2 separate regions of the Homo sapiens genome follow, and region 2 is linked to region 1. A link means that fine-mapping ties the variant in region 1 to the plasma level of a protein whose gene starts in the linked region. Region 1 holds a variant in brackets. A gene starts in the other region. All regions are shown on their reverse strands.

Region 1 (8,326 bases):
CCGTGACGTGGAGAAGTAGCAGAGACCACGTCCGGGTCTCCAGTTGCCACCGTCACCCTTCTGTCACAGCTTCCAGTACTGACTTCCTTACTTTTTTGTTTTACCACAACCCCCCTGAAAAATATATCCTACCTCATGACCCAGAACGCATGTACACACACACACACACACACACTCCACACAAGTTTCAAGAAACAATACTTACCCTTACTCTATGCAAGACTAAATATTTTCTGCCCTATTCTCTTCCTATTTAAGAAAAAGAATCATGCTGGTTGCATGCTGTTAAATCGACTTCATGACCCACATAGATCACAATGTGCATTTTGGAAACCCTACCCCAAGGTCAGCAAGCTAGATATAGTGCCATTGTACAGGTAGGGACACTGAGGCCCAGAGAACAACCAAGAGCTGCCTGAGGTCACAGGGCTGGTTGGTGACAGAGCCCCAGCCAGAGCTCTGGGGTCTTGGCTCCCAGAGAATTGTTTCCACTGGAAGTTTCCAGAGCCTGAGGGACTCGGAGATAGCTGCCTGCAGAATGAGGACTGGGGAAGAGAATTCCCACCGGCAGGTCATCAGGGAGGAGGAGACGGATGTTTACTGAGGCTCTCTCAGAGCTTCTGCAGGTAGCAGCAGTGAAGGCTATGCTAAGCCTGTGGAAAAGGTCAGCCTTGAGGGTCAGCGCCAGGTCCTCCAGAGCACGATGAAAAGGAGAAAGGGGAGTGGCCTGGCTACAAGGTCACATGGACTCAATCCAAAGGAGGCTCCCAGTCTGATGGGGGAGACACTGCCTGTGCCCTCAGAGAGCTCCTAATTTGTTTCAGATCTCTGCTGCAGGCAGAAAGTGAGGACAAATCCAGAACGAGGGCCCACACACAATGTCTACACTGGATACCTCAGCAGCAAAGCAGTGAGAAGGCTGGGGAGGAGGAAGGGGAGCAGCAAAGCAACTGAGAACTCGCAAGAGGGAGGTCCAGCCACTCCATCCAGGCAGGGTTGCCAGACAAAGTACGGGATGCCCAGTTAAATTTGAATTTCACACAAACAATGAAAATTTAATGGGGCACCTCGTGTTTTTATTTGCTGCATCTGACAACTTACTTCTAGGATCTTCCCTCCTCAGACCCAGAAGGCCAGCTGACCAGAGAGGCCTGAGGCCCATGCAGGACTAACAGACAGCAGGAGAAACTGAGGAAGAGCTTCATGTCCAGGTACCTGGTATTGACCCAGGGTGAGGGTGAGACAGAGATGAGGGGCTCTGGGACCCCCCATCCCCTAGAAGGTAGTCCTCAGATCATGGATACCTCCTTCCCACCTTCAGAGAGGGAGAGAGGATGGTCTGGGATGCAAGAGATAGCCTTTGGAGTGGACATGTAATGGTGGGCGAGGGAAGAAATGGCTTCCTTTGCCCCCTCCCAGCAGCCACCCATTCAAGATAAGCAAGACTCCAGGGACACTTCCTGTGAAGCAAACGCCAACGGCCGGCACACCACTGGCATCTGGGGGCCGGGGTGGGAGAGAGGCAGTTTCTCCGAAGTCATGGGGCCTGGAGGAGGGTTTTACCAGCATCGAGCTGAGCCCTTCCCCTCACCCCCATGTCTCTTCTGCCCCCTTTCCCCACTGCGTGCCCTCCACCCACCACCAGCACCACCATTTGGGTTTTTACTATGGCTGCCAGAGACTTAGGCAGTGTCAAGGGTGTGGCTGGGGTCACCACAGTCACAAGGAAAGGGGATGAGCCCCGCTGGCCTCAACAAGAAGGCATTCCCTGGGCTCCCATAATCTTTGCCAGCAAAATGTACCCTTCCCCAGTCCCCAGAATGGGGGGTAAGCACTAGGACTTGGGGAGTGGGGCACAGAGCAATGCTGGGGATGCAGCCAGGAGCCGAGCCTGGGGCCACATCCTGGGAAGGGATTAATTGTAGGCCTGAGACTCTGTGCCCAGGGCTTAGGGCCCTGTGCCCTGCCTGCACCTCATTACGAGAAGGAAAGGAAAAGTTGTTTCCATTTTTCCTTGTGGGTTTCTGCACTGGCTGTTGCCACACCAAGAGAATGAACCATCCCCAAAAAGGCTCGGCATTTTAGATGGTTCATCTAAAGGGATCCGTAGATCCCTTTCTCCCCAAGGGAGAAGGCCCAAGGTCATACCCTCACCATCAGGGAGCACACGGGCTAATCAGAGAGAATTTGTCCCTGCTCTTGGGGACCCTGACAGGGTGAGGTGACTAATGTTCATTTATTCATTCATTCTACAAGTACCATATTTATTGAGCCCCTTAAGAGGGGACTGGGGGTGGGTTTTACCAGCATCCAGCTGAACTCTTCCCCTCACTCCAGGTCTCTTCTTCCCTCCTTCCCTTTTAAGTGGCAATCACTGTGTGTTCATTGTCTAATATAATCCACATCAACACCTGGGAGGTAGGTGTTGCCATGTCCATTTTACAGAGCAAGACAATGAGCCCCAGAGAGATCCAGCAACTTGCCCAAGGTCACAGAGCTAGAAAACTCTACTGATGTCAAAAGTAGAGCTCAGCTCTGTCCGATTTCAAATCCTCTCTTCCTACATCCTTGTGCCAAATCACGACGACAATAGCTAACCTTTATCGGGCCCTTATTGCATGCCAGTCATCCTCCTATAACCATCTGCATTTCCCTGAGCACCAGCACTCTCAGCTCTAGTATGGGGACACTACTGCCAATGTCTGGTGTGGGGAGGATGACATGATCATATGTACACGAAACACTGTGAAATAGATATCATGGTGCCTGTTTCAGAGATGGCAAGTGAGATGCAGAAAGGTAATTGTCCTAAACATAGCTGAGAAGCTGTCGGAGCTGGGGCTGTGTTTGGGGTTTGGGTTTTGGACCTCGGGGCTCAGAAATTGCAGCCAGGATTTGAACCCAGGCAGTCAGGCTGGGCCAGGCCAGAAGTGACCCAGTGTTATCAATTCTGGGCTGCCACACAGAAGACTATTAATAGCCATGAGGTGTTTATTGCTGAACAGTCAGCAGTTCCCAGAGGGCAGCTCTGGGTCATGGGACCGCAGCCAGGTCAGCCCCCAACCCCCAGCCCCATGGGGGCTCGTCCCGAGATGCTGGCTCCCCCAGCTGGGCCTCACCCAGCCCCTAGGAACCCTTACCCAACCAGGCGGCTGCCCCGTGACTGGCAATAGTGACCCCTGTCACACTTGTGTGTGTGCGAGCCCGTGTGGATGTACCCGTGTGAAAGAAGATCTATAGTAGGAGTCTCGCTCCAGAAGCGAGGACGCCTCAGGAGGGCATCTGCTGGGGCCAGACCTTCCCCACCAGTCCCAGCCTCAGGGGCCCAGCAAGCCCTGCCATCCTCTCTCTATCTCAGGCTGGCCAGGAGAGCAGCTGGGAGGGAACCCTGGGGAGTGAAGTAGGGGAGACCTGGGGTGGGGGTGGAGATGCCTTTGGGAGCCAAAAGCAAACACCCTCCCTGAATATTTCCCCAGAAGACATCCTCTTGTGGCCTCCCCAGGAGATGGCAGCTCCCAGCTCTCCAAAGTCCCAGGGAAGGGCTTCTCCCCTGCCTGGGTCCCAGAGGCCCTTCCATACCTATACCACAAATCATTTCACCTAAACATCCTGGAACAGACAGGTTTCCACCTTGAGGGAGCTTCTGAAGACAGCCCTGGGGGCATCCGTCCACTGCAGCCTGGCCCAAGCAGCCCTGCCCAGCCTCAGCATTTCTTGCCCAGAGCACAGCTGTGTGTATAAGGGTGGACATCCGGCCTCCTCCATCAGACTGGAGGTTCCCAGTGTGTTTGGGGGACCTAAGAGAAGATTGGCCATGCATTCTGCTCCTGTTCATTTGTTCATTAATTCTACAAATACTCATGCAAGCCCACCTTGTACCTGGTCCTGGGTTCAAAGCCACAGGGCATCATCCCTACCAGGAAGGGCTCTCCACACCCTCTTTTCCCTTCAGTCCAATCCCTTTCTCTCACTGCTGGGCTCCAGGGCTGAACCTGCCCTGGCGTGCCTCACTCCTCAGCAGGAGAGTAAGGATGCATGCTTGCAAAAATGGTTATAAAATCCAGCCAGACCATTTCAGGTTTTTTTAAAAAGTGGGAAAAAAGCCCCACAAACAACCAAAATGTACTAAAGGGGGCACTCAGAGAGGAAAAAGCATTGGCATGGAGACTAGAATAACAACAAGATGATAATGACTTTTTTTTTTAGGACATCCTATGTACCAGTCACTTCATGAGGTACTTTTACATGTCAATGTCACTTCAGGCCCTCAAACTCCATCATGTAGGTGTTACTGTGCCCATTTTAGATGAGAAAGTTGAGGTGCAGGCAAGTAATTTCTCCAGTGGCAGACCCAGGATTCCAATCTAGATCTGTCAGAAGTCTTGATGGGACTTAGGGCGGCCCAGATTAGGCTCTGCAGAGGCATCCAAAGAGAGGTCCCTATGGCCGGGCCTCACAGGGCATCACCTCCTCAGAAGCTTCCAGCCCCAGGACAGCTGGATGAGCTACAGACAGG[G/C]AGTAGGGGAACAGTCTTCCTGCAGGAAGTCTGAGGAGCTGATGAACAGGGTTCTCAGGCCTCTCCAGGAGAGGAGACAGGAGAAGCCCAGGAAAGGGACATGTGCTAGCATCTGCTCCACTTGGAGCCAGACCCAGGGACCGTCAGGGGATGTGTGGAGAAAATCAGGGCCCAGGCTGGTGAGCCACGCATGGCTGATGACAAACACAAGAGAAGCCCTGTGAGCATTGTGAATGCGCACCGAGAGTGGAGGGAAGGATGGGGTACCAGCATCCGGTGACTCCGAACAGTGCAACAGCCAAATGGTGGCAGGGTGGTGCCTTCCCGAAACTAGTATCCAAAGAAATGTCTGATGGCAGAAGCTCTGTCTCCTCCCTCAGATTAGATACTCTGTAAGGACCGGGAGCATCCTGAGGGCCAGGGCCATGTCAATCCTCCTTGAGACTGGGAGCTCCCTGGGAGCAGTACTTGCACTTCCCTCATAGAGAGACTAACTCCCCAAAGGCAAACGCAGCCTTTGAAAATCTTTGTCAGATCCCGGCCCCCTCTTGTCCTGGGAGACTCAAGCCCAGCCTTGCACCATAGGCACCTGTGCCTAGTGGGCCCTTTCCTCTGACTCACTGCTCCCTGGGTTCTAGCTCTTCCCCTTCCACGTCACCCCTTCTGTTCCTTCTCAGCAGATGCTCAGTCAAGCCCTGTCTTTGCCTTGCATTTTCCTTTTCTAGGCAGATTATAAATATTTACTGATTCCTTCCCTGCCCTCCCCTAGTCCCATGTCCTAATGGACAATGTCCTGCGGATGTAGCTGAATTATCTCTCTCCCAGCAACTCTGAAGCCAACCTGATGGAGCCTTCCAAGGGTCAGCCCATCCATCCCCCACCTCTAGGCTGGCTCATGCTAAAGCCCCTCCTAGTAAATGAGAGACCATCCCTGCACCAGGGCATAGTACATATGGCTGGTATTCCATAAACGCTGGAGGATGGAAGGAAGAAGGGAAGAAAAGGATTCCACAGTCTTTTCCTCCAAATCCCTCATGCTGTGCTCTCTGGCAGTTCTTCTCATCCTCTATCCTCTATCCCCCATGCTGTAGGTGAGGCCCACTTTCTCTTGGTAAGACTCCAGTACAACCAAGTCACTCTCCTCACTCTAGAAATTAGGACAATATTTTGTCCTGCCTGGGTCAGCCCTTACCCTGACTTCTCACCAAACTTACCACCATGGCAGATGCCTGGTCTCTGATTCCCTTATAAACACACCCTTCTTTCCTTGAACATCCCTCCATCCACTTCATGAATACCAGTTAAACCTTATGGATGGGAAGGGACAAACACCCTAATGCCAAGGAAATGACTGTTTTGTTAGATGGCTCAGTTATTATTGAGGAATAATAACCACCCCAAAACTTAGTAGCTTTAAACAACACAGTGCATACATTTGCTTACAACTCACTAAACTGGGGCAGGGATGGCTTCTCTCTACTTTATGTGTTGTTGGCTAGAGTGGCTCACCTGGCGCTAGGGAATCCAAAGTGACTTCACTCACATGTCTGGTGCCTCAGCTTCAGGTGGTTGGAACAGCTGGGAGTTGGCTGAGCCTCTCTCTCTCTCTCCATCTCTGTCTCTCTCTTCCTCTATCTCTCTGTTTCTCTTCCCCTATCTCTCTCTGTCTCTCCACAGTCTCTCTCTCCAGTAGAGTATTTGGACAGTTATAGCCTGGCAGCTGCCTTACAAGAGGACAAAAATTGACACTACAATGCCTAGACCTGAAAGTCCCAGAATATCTCTCTTGTGTTGCATTTTTATTCAAAGCAAGTCATAAAGCCGGCCCAGATTCAAAAAGAGGAAAAATAGACTCTACTTCTTGGGGGGCAAAGCACGTGGGCACAGGGATGGAAAGAACTGTTGACAGCCATGTTTGCACACTGGCCACCACAATGATCCTAACACACGAAATTGATCCAGAATCACCAAGTTTTGTATGGATCCACCCGTCAGCCTTTCAGTTCTTGTGGGAGGGAGGAGAGTGGGCCAGCAGGCTCTCTAAAGGCCTTTCAGGGCCGGGAGCAGGATGGGCAGCTCCTTGGAGAAGGGAGAGTCTCAGGCTAGACAGAGGAGAAGGAGCACTGGGTAGCTCCAGAGGAAACAGTGGCTAGACCAGGCGGTGTGAGTCCCACAGAGAGGAGATGATCTGGGAAGGCAGGGTAGGCCCTGGGACTTGCTTAGGTCTGGAGAGATCCTTGGGAATGGCTCCAGGGGGGTATCTGGGCAGGTCTTATACAACTGGGGGAGGTGGCATTTTCATGTTCTCCTTCTTTTCTCCGTGGTCTGTTTCAAGGCTGTTTCTCTCATCTAAGGCCGTGTGTTGCAATCTCTTGCATGCTTAGGTTTCCGATCTTCCACTGACGAGCCCCAGCCCCTGGAGACATCTCTTGCTTGCCTTGCCTTGCCTTACCACACTTGGGGAAGTCTGGATTTCAGCCCTGGGTTTGGCCAGCACTACATCCTCCCCCTGTCCCACTTTTCTTCTTCCCTGTTTGTATTGAGTCTAGACGATTCATTTTTATTTGTTGATGTCCTGCCCTAGCCTGAGGCAGCTGTGGTGTGGTAAAAAGAGCACTAGATTTGGAGTCAGAAAAGCTGGTTTAAATTCTGGCTTGGCCATTTACTGGCTGCGTGTAAATTCGGGCAAGTTATTTACCTTCTCTGAGCCTCCTGCTTCTCATCTGCCAAGCAATAATAATGAGCCCCATCCCCAGGGTGGCTAAGAGGAGACGGTACTGGCACTGACAAAGAGGCCTCTGCTGTAATCCCTACCAGCTGACTTTGAGTTCACTTCTTCTAGACAATCCCCACTTAAGTCCCCACCTGTCCAGCTAACCCTCACCAACAACTCCTGGCACCTCTGTAGAAATCCTGTACTCACCTCCGTAGTCTTGGGATGAAACCTTCAGGTCCAGGCCTCAGTTTCAACAATGTCAGTCATTTAACAAATGTTTATTGAGCATGTACTGTGTTCCAGGAGCTGGAGATACATTGAACAAAACAGACAAAAATCTCTTCCTTCATGGAGCTTGCATTCTAGTTGGGGGAGACAAACAAAGGGGGGAGTACATTTTAAAGCTATTCTGTCTGAAATGGTAGCCACTAGCCATGTGTATATTAAGCACTCGAAACGTGGCTACAACTAATTGAGACATGCGATAAATATAAAACACCCACCAGATTCAAAGATTTATTTTTTCTTTACACCCAATTTCTGCCCTTGGACAGACGCAAAGACTTAGTACCAAAAGAGTATACAATTTCTCATTAATAGGCTGGGCGCAGTGGCTCATGCCTGTAATCCCAGCACTTTGGGAGGCCGAGGCAGGTGGATCATCTTAGGTCAGGAGTTCAAGACCAGCCTGACCAATATGGTGAAACCCCCATTTCTACTAAAAATACAAAAATTAGCCAGACGTGTTTGTGTGCGCCCATAGTCCCAGCTACTCGGAAGGTTCAGGCAGGAGAATCACTTGAACCCAGGAGGCAGAGCTTGCAGTGAGCTAAGATTGCACCACTGCATTCCAGCCTGGGTGACAGAGCAAGACTCCATCTCAAAAAAAAAAAAAAAAAAAAAAAAAAAAAAAAAAAAACTCATTAATAATGTTTCCATTGATTAGATCCTGAAGTGATATTCTAGATATGTTGGAGCTAAAATAAATTATTAAAATTAATTTTACCTTTTTATAGCTTTCGAACTCTGGTGCCTGGAAAATTTTAAACTCCATAAGTGGCTCACACTATATTTCTGTTGGGTAGCACTGTTCT
Region 2 (8,326 bases), not on the chromosome of region 1:
CCGGGTAGAGCCCAGGAGAAGCTACAAGTCCAAAAGCAATGCCTCAGCATCCTTCCTGACCCTTGCATCCCAGCATCCCTGACTTCTGACCCTGGACCCCTGAACCCTAGCCTCCCTGGGACCCGTTTCTCGGAACATCCCCAGCTAAAGGATACCCCAGTAAGCAAACAGATCTAGATGAAGCCACTTTGAGGAAGGAGACCGTAGATCAGGCACACCCCACAGCTGTGCATGATGTTCAGTCTCTTTCTGTGCCCACAGCTTGTTGCCTCTGTGAGGAGGTATAAGCACTCCCCTTCCCCGCTTCCATGACCCTTTCCAGTGACCATTCAGTGGACACCTTCCTGCCCTCCCCCTACAGTCCCAGTCAATTGTCACCTCCTTCCTCACCAGAAGGGCAGGTCCTCCCCTCACCACCATGTGCCCCCTCCCCAACCACCCGTGCCTCAGTAAGGCCTTGACTTCCTTCTGCAGCCATGAGACCAGGAAGGGCAGGGTGGCAGGATGAGTCCAGAGGTCAGGGCCCAAGGCCTGGCCTTTCTGGCTTGCCCCCGAGACTCTGGATGGCGCAGACAGAATATGAGCTTTGGGGTCAGGCTGTGACCACTTCTGGGATCTGGCACTTCTTGTGTGACCCTGAGCAAGTGACCTAACCCTGCTGAGCCTCCACTTCCACAGCTGGACAACCCAGCTCCCAGGCTTGTGGGGACACCTAGGTGGCCATAAACTATTGTGTCTGGTACCAGGCAGGCACTCACTGGCTGCTTCTGTAAGAAGGGTGGCAAGGGAAGGGGCGGAATTGCCATTCACTCACTCAATCCTGGGGGCTGGGTTTGCTGAGCTTTTGCCTTGGGCTGCAGGCGTGTTGTAGCCAGAGGCTGGAAGGTGGGAGAAGGGGAGGGAGGACAGCAGGGTCCTAGAGGAAAGGGAAAGGCTGCTCTCAGGGGTGGCACCGCTCTGAACCCCTTTTCCTTCCTTGGGAGCAGCTGGCAGTTTTCCTACCCCCCACCTCAGCACAGAGCACTGCCATCTTTCGCCTCGGCCAACCAGGAGCCACGTGGCGGGTTCCAGCAGATCCCTGGTCTTCTACTCCTGCAGCCCCCTGGCCTCGCGCCTAGCTCAGAGCCTCAAACCCACCTGCCTCTCAGCCTGCTTCTTCCCTGCCACCCTTCACACTACTCCAGTTTTGTCTCAAAAGTCTGTGTTGGATCCCATCCCTCTCTGCCTTAGAACAGTCACTGGCTCTCCATTGCCTAAAAGCCAAAGTTCAAACTTTTTAGTATGCCTTTCGAGGCCTCTTAAACTCAGGCTTCAGGCCGGGTGTGGTGGCTCACACTTGTAATCTCAGCATTTTGGGAGGCCAAGGCTGGTGGATCACGTGAGGTCAGGAGTTCGAGACCAGCCTGGCCAACACGGTGAAACCCCCTCTCTACTAAAAATACAAAATTAGCTGGGTATGGTGGAGCATGCCTGTAATCCCAGCTACTTGGGAGGCTGAGGCAGGAGAATTGCTTGAACCCGGGAGGGAGAGGTTGCGGTGATTGCAGTGAGCCAAGATTGCGCCACTGCACTCCAGCCTGGGCAACAACAGCAAAACTTCGTCTCTAAAAAAAAAAAAAAGCAAAGAACAAAACTCAGGCTTTGAGGCTTTGAACCACCTTGTCAGCTTCGCCTCTTTCTCTGTTCGGTGCTCCAGCCATAGAGTCATCCTCTATTCCCGACTAAACCAGCCTCCTGCCCACCTCCGTGCCTTGGACATGCTGTTCCTCTGTGTGCGATGCCTTTCCTTTCCATCTCTGCCTAAAGCACTTCTTTCTGTCCTTCAGCACAAGCTCAAGGTCAACTCCTCTGTAATGTCTTCCCTGGAAGCAGCGAATCTCTTTTTCCTCTGTGCACTCACAGTCCCCTGTGCGTGCCTCCAGTGGCGCTAATGCTCACTTACACTGCAATTTCTTGTGTACTGGGTCTCCCTGCTAGGCTGAGACTCCTTAAAGGCAAGATGCCTATCCTCTTGGGAGGCCAAGGCAGGCAGCTCACAAGGTCAGGAGATCGAGACCATCCTGGCTAACACGTGAAACCCTGTCTCTACTAAAAATACAAAAAATTAGCCGAGATCGCGCCACTGCACTCCAGCCTGGGCGACAGAGCGAGACTCCGTCTCAAAAAAAAAAAAAAAAAAAAAAAAAATTCCTGTCCTCTGTGCCCAGCACAGTGGGCAGAAGCCTGATGCAACCAACTCCCCAGGAGCTACTCCGGTCCCCACTTCCCCAAGTCCATCTGTCACTTCCCCAGTCCTTGCTGACTGTGTGCCATCCTGGACTCTCCCTCTTTCTCCACCACTTTCTCTTCTACAGATTGAGTATCCCCTATCCAAAAATGCTTGGGAACAGAAGTGTTTCAGATTTCAGAATATTTGCATTATATCTGCCGATTCAGCATCCCTAATCCAGGAATCTGAAATCCAAAATGCCCCAGTGAGCATTTCCTTTGTGTGTGTGATGCTGGCACACAAAAAGTTTCGGACTTTGGAGTATTTTGCATTTTTGGATTAGGGATACTCAATCTGTAACACTAGGTCAGTTTATTCTTGGATTTTTCTAAGTAGATGATCAAATCTTTTGCAAATACAGAGTATTTATCTTTTCCTTTCCAACATTTATACTTCTTCTTCTTTTTTTTTTTTTTTTTTTTTTTGAGACTGAGTCTGGCTCTGTTGACCAGGCTGGAGTGCAGTGGCACGATCTTGGCTCACTGCAACCTCCGCCTCCCGGGTTGAAGCAATTCTCTGCCTCAGCCTCCTGAGTAGCTGGGATTACAGGCACCTGCCACTATGCCCGGCTAATTTTTATATTTTTAGTAGAGACGGGGTTTCACCATTTTGGCCAGGCTGGTCTTGAACTCCTGACCTCGTGATCCACCCGCCTTGACCTCCCAAAGTGCTGGGATTACAGGCGTGAGCCACCATGCCGGGACTTATACTTCTTAATCTTGCATATTTCATTGCCTAGGGCCTTCAGGCAAAGATGAATAAAAGAAAATGATAGTAGGCTGGCTGGGCACAGTGGCTTCTGCCAGTAATCTCAGCACTTTGAGAGGCTGAGGCAGGCAGATGGCTTGAGTCCAGAAGTTTGAGACCAGACAGGCCAATATGGCGAAACCACATCTTAAAAAAAAAACAAAAAACCAAAATGTAGCCAGGCATAGTGACTTGTGCCTGTGGTCCCAGCTACTCTGGAGGCTGAGGTAGGAGGATTACTTGAGCCTGGGAGGCAGAGGTTGTAATGAGCCAAGATTGTGTCACTGCACTCCCGTCTGGATGACAGAGTGAGACCCCATCTCAGAAAAATGAATGAATGAATGAATGAATGAATGAATAAAAATAAATAAATAAAAAGAAAAGAAATGATAGTGGCTACATTTGTCTTTTTCTGACTTTCTTAGAAATTCTTCTCATGGTTCACCATACTCAATGGTGTGCTGGAGATGGCTCGCACTGACTCACAAGAGCTCACTGTTAACTTTTCAGGAGTTGGTGAGATCGTGTTAAACTGTCGATGGCTGGAAATTGGCCATGGGAATTGGACCACAGAAATGGACACCACAGAAATTGGAAAACACCACAAAATGACAGCATCCCCAGCCTGTTAAACATTTACCAGCACATCACTGTCGTCAGTCTTCTTCATTTTCAACATCCCAACTGCCATCAGAGAGAGGCCAATAGAGTCCGATATAGGACGATAATATAGCAATACACATGTCATACACAAATAAAGAATTACAAATGAGGGTAAACCTAAAACACAAGCGAACTTGATCATAACTGGTAGAAATGACATGTGAACACTGATAAGAATTGGAAGAGATAAGAGAATCTTGTAAATAATGAAGAACAGATTCAATGTGGTTCGATGCTGCTGCTATTTGGCAAGTTTAACTTTATTTCCTCAAATTAAAGATCCATGGATAAAGGAATAAAAAAAAAATAGGGGCTATGGTGGTAGGGATGGGCCTGGGATTGGGATAGGTCCCAGCTATGGGGCTAGGAGAGGAATAAAGCAGACATCAAAGCTGGAAACGACTTGTGTTTGAATCCCAGTTCCATCACTTCCTGCTGTGAGATCTTGGGCAAATCACTTAGTCTCTTGGAGCCTCAGTCCCTCATCCGTGAAATGGGGATACAAAGATGTACCTCGCCCACACTGGCCAGCAGACCAAGGCTCCCACTCCCCTGGGCCCTCTCTGGCTTCTTTCTCCTTAGCTCAGCAGGTCCACTTGGGGTTCTGGGCTCCCAGAGAGGTGCTTTATCCCCTACCCAGGCCCCATAGCTCCAGCCCCGGCCCCCTAGTGTCCCTGCATTTAACGATCCCTCCTTCAGGCATCCTACCCAGAGGCTGGTTCCCAGGCACTCTAGCACCTGTGGCTGGACTTCAATATCTGGGGAGGTGGAGGCCAGGAGGGGAGAGTTGAGGGCACAAGCAGGGCGAGGCCAGCATGTCCAGGGTGATGCTGTGGGCTGGGTCTGGAATGCAGCAATGGTTGGCCCAGCCTCGGGAGGCCTCAGGAATATCTCTGACACCAGGCGAGGAGTCTTCTTTATCCCCTGATATGTCTATCTTGTACCCAGCCTATGGAAATCTCCCTCCAGCACACCTGGGCAGAAAGGAAAGGCGCCGAGCCCAGCCCTGGACAGATCTGGGTCCGGTCCTGCTCTGACATCTACTACTGGTGTGACCTCGGGCAGCAAGAGTGAGACAATGGCCAAGACTCAGGCGGCTCCTTCTGTGCCCCAAGCCTTGCTCGGTGCTTGACCTGCATGATCTCCCTGAGGACTCAGTGCCCATAATGTTGGTACCAGGATTATGCCCCACCACCCCTCCCTCTTCCCTCTGCAGCTCCTGTCCCCAGCCTGGGGAAGGAGAGATATCTGTTACCTGGAAAGACGAACAGAGAGATCAGTAAAGACTCATCGGGGCCCCGTTTTTCGACCCCACACCAGTACTCCCCAGCGTCTTGCAGGGTGAGGTTCCACAGGGTCACAATGAGCGAGAGCTCCTGGCGGCTGTCACGGATGGACACCCTGCCCTTCATTGTCTCCTGGCCTTCTTCTTCTGCATAGATGGTGCCAGAGCAGCGAGAGAAGAGGATCCCACCCTTCCTGCACCAGTACTTCCGGTGGTCCCTCAGCTCTTCCCTGTAGGTGCACTGCAGGGACACAGTGTCCCCTTCGAACCCGCTGATTTCCTCTGGGCCCTCCAGGGCTTCATAACCTAAAATCAGAGCAGGAGTGGAGGTTGGAAAAACCAGGCTCCATGTACCAAGGTCAAGGCCAGAGCTTCCATTTTAGGAGGAAGAAGGAAGGCTTTTCTCAGTCATCCCTTCTGGGGACAGCCTTGGAAGAGCCATTACTAACCTCCCACGCTGGGGGAACTTGGGGCAGGGCTGTTGCTGTTTCCCTAACCCTGGCCCATTGAGGAATTGGGGTGCAGGGGTGGCGTTCTAGATTCAGATAGAATCTGACAGCCAGATAGCCAGCAGGGTTTCTGAGTGTTTTGTTTTGTTTTGTTTGTTTGTTTGTTTGTTTTTGAGATGGAGTCTCACTTTGCCGCCCAGGCTGGAGTGCAGTGGCCCGATGTCTGCTCACTGAAACTTCTGCCTCCCGGGTTCAGGTGATTCTCCTGCCTCAGCCTCCTGAGTACCTGGGACTACAGCCACGTGCTGCCATGCCCGGCTAATTTTTTGTATTTTTAGTAGAGACGGGGTTTCACCGTGTTAGCCAGGATGGTCTTGATCTCCTGACCTTGTGATCCGTCCGCCTCAGCCTCCCAAAGAGCTTGGATTACAGGCGTGAGCCACCGTGCCTGGTTTTGTTTTGTTTTTAGACAGGATCTCACTCTGTTGCCCAGGCTGGAGGGCAATGGTGCTCATGGCTCACTGTAGCCTTGACCTCTGGGGCTCAAGCGATCCTCCCACCTTAGCCTCCCACTAGCTAGGACTACAAGTGTGCACCACCATGCCTGGCTAATTTTGTTTGTTTGTTTGTTTGTTTGTTTGTAGAGATGGGGTCTCACTATTGCCAACTGAACAACTGACATCAGTTGTAGGATTTATCCTGATTTTAAGTGTTAGAAGGTAAAGAAAAAGAAAGCAAAAGAATTGATGAAACGTGATAATTCTTCATCTTTCAGGGTTGTGGGGAGAGGCATAGCCGAAATTCAACAAATATTTGCTGAGTTTAACAGGGCAACCAGATGGGGTGTCTTGTCCGCCTCCAGGCTTGGCACAGGGTAGAAAAATTAAGATTAGAGAGGCAAAGCAACTCTCACAGCCACATTGCCATGAGGGGAAACCCACAGGTCTGGAGAAAACCTGGCTCTAGGTTCCAGAAACAGCAAGTGCGGCCCCGGCGCCACCCCCACCTCCCCCCACCCCCAGCCCGCCCCGCTCCCCTAGGGCTGAGGAGGCTGAGGATAGGTGGGGTGGGGCTATCAGTCAGTCAAGAGGTCCTTTCCCTGCAGACCACAAGGGTGAGCCCCACATCCCTCCCGAGACCCTCTCCCCATCTCACCTGGGAGCAGCAGGCAACCCCATAGCAGGACCAGAAGCCGCATTCTGGGCGCTGGACACCGTGGGAGCAGACGCTGGGAACTGTGAGCTCCTCTTCAGTCACACGGGTCTTTAACTTTCTCTAGTCGCGTGAAACCAGGCCAAGGAAGCGAGGGGAGGGGCGTGTGGGTCATCCCTCCGCAGGCCCAGCCGGGGAGGCGCCTCTGCCTTCCCTTTTCTGAGCGCCCACGCGTGCCTACCCCAGGGCTCACCTTCCAGGACTGAAAACCCACACCAGAGTTTCTCCTAAACTCGTGCCCCTTCAAGGGGGCCTTAACCTGTGGTCCGTGCGCCCTAAGGGGTCTGTAAGTCGAATTCGCATGGGAAAAAGTTACATATTGACTTTCATCAACTTCTAATATTTAGCTTTTCCTCTTATTCAGAGTGTACTGTTAGCAGTACCTGCAACTTTGTTACCAATTACAATCACAGACACTGGCACATCAAGTTGTGGATATCTCGAAACGTCGTGTATACCCCTCACTGCTTGGAAAACAATGAGTTCCTAGACCTGCCCCTAGAGCTGGTTATTTACAATAATGAAACGGCTATTATTATATTACACATTTATAAAGAGTTTTAAGAATCATCTCACCAGTATTAGTTTTCTTTCCAGCATATATATTTTATTTATATATTTACCCGCCATTATACTGAGAGAGGGGTCCATAAACTTCACCAGACTGCCATGTGGTCAGTGGGACAGAAAGAAGCTTGCCCCTGGGGCAAGGCCCCTGGCCCCTCCTCCGCCCTTGCCTTTTGGAGGACGCAGTACTGCCCTTGGCCACGGGGCGGCGGTGCAGACGGGGCTGAGCAAAGCTGTAGGGCTGAGCTGGACCGGATTCCCTGGTGCCTTGGGCCTACAGCGCTGCAAGATAGGTCTCCTCCACGCCTGCGGAGTTGTTTTGGCATTTGAAAAAGTGAATTGGTGGTTTCTCCATCGCAGACTTGAATCCTCCTTGAAAGGACCAAAACAAACATGTACACTACTGGGAGCTCTGACACACTGGCTTCAAAAATGACTTTTTTTTTGGTTTGGTTGCAAAGTTCATACAGGTTGTAAGCAAAATTTTACACAATACAGAACGTAAAAAGGAAAGAAAGAAAAAAGGGAGTGCTTCTTGTAATTCCCCTTCTGCTTTAGAAAAGCACCATTAATATTTTGGCATATATCCTTCCAAATGTTCAGTTGGAATTTTACTGACTTGTCAGGTTAATATCTGAAGCATTAACTCAGTGGTTCTGGGAGGGAAGATTGTGTGTGTGTGAGTCTAGTAACGTGGGGAGAAGTGTTTTAATTTCACAATGACTGCGAAGCACTGCTGCCATTTAGTGGGCAGGGCCAGCTGTTCACGGTGGGGAAAACTGTTACCATGATCTCAGCCCCTGACTCTCTTTTACATGTACAGACTACAAAAGGTGATCTGTTTTTGCAGTTTTAAAAAAACACAGATTAAAAAATATTTATGGCCCAGCATGGTGGCTCACGCCTGTCATCCCAGCACTTTGGGAGGCTGAGGCGGGTGGATCACCTGAAGTCGGGAGTTTGAGACCAGCCTGACCAACATGGAGAAACCCAGTCTCTACTAAAAATATAAAATTAGCCAGGCATGGTGGTGTATGCCTGTAATCCCAGCTACTCAGGGAGGCTGAGGCAGGAGAATCGCTTGAACCCAGAAGGTGGAGGTTGTGGTGAGCTGAGATCACACCATTGCACTCC

Direction of the effects. Alleles are on the strand shown, and positions count from the first base shown. The strength of an association depends on the size of the effect and on how common the allele is.
As copies of C replace G in region 1, the plasma level of the protein whose gene starts at base 6,652 in region 2 goes down (moderate association).

The links. A credible set is the group of variants that fine-mapping cannot tell apart. PIP is the chance, under the fine-mapping model, that this variant and not a neighbour inherited with it causes the effect. The UK Biobank Pharma Proteomics Project read protein levels with antibody pairs (Olink). The fine-mapping took linkage between variants from a reference panel, not from the people measured, so its PIPs are less certain.
Region 2: it holds the start of CD300LG, and the variant in region 1 is the best candidate, but not a certain one, in a credible set for the plasma level of the CD300LG protein (UK Biobank, PIP 0.55).

The regions. Positions count from the first base shown.
Region 1 is chr6:43,788,781-43,797,106 of GRCh38, reverse strand. No RefSeq gene overlaps it. Among named protein-coding and RNA genes, the nearest start is that of VEGFA, 23 kb to the right of the region's middle. The variant G/C (reference allele first, on the strand shown) is at 4,517.
Region 2 is chr17:43,845,502-43,853,827 of GRCh38, reverse strand. It overlaps CD300LG (CD300 molecule like family member g), which reads right to left and starts at 6,652. Exons shown (of 7, transcript NM_145273.4): 1 at 6,569-6,652; 2 at 4,935-5,270; 3 at 815-916; 4 at 1-21. The coding sequence starts at 6,611. It overlaps LOC107984979 (a long non-coding RNA gene), which reads right to left. Exons shown (of 3, transcript XR_001753057.2): 3 at 7,353-7,564. It overlaps LOC107985077 (a long non-coding RNA gene), which reads left to right. Exons shown (of 2, transcript XR_001752896.2): 2 at 3,527-4,078.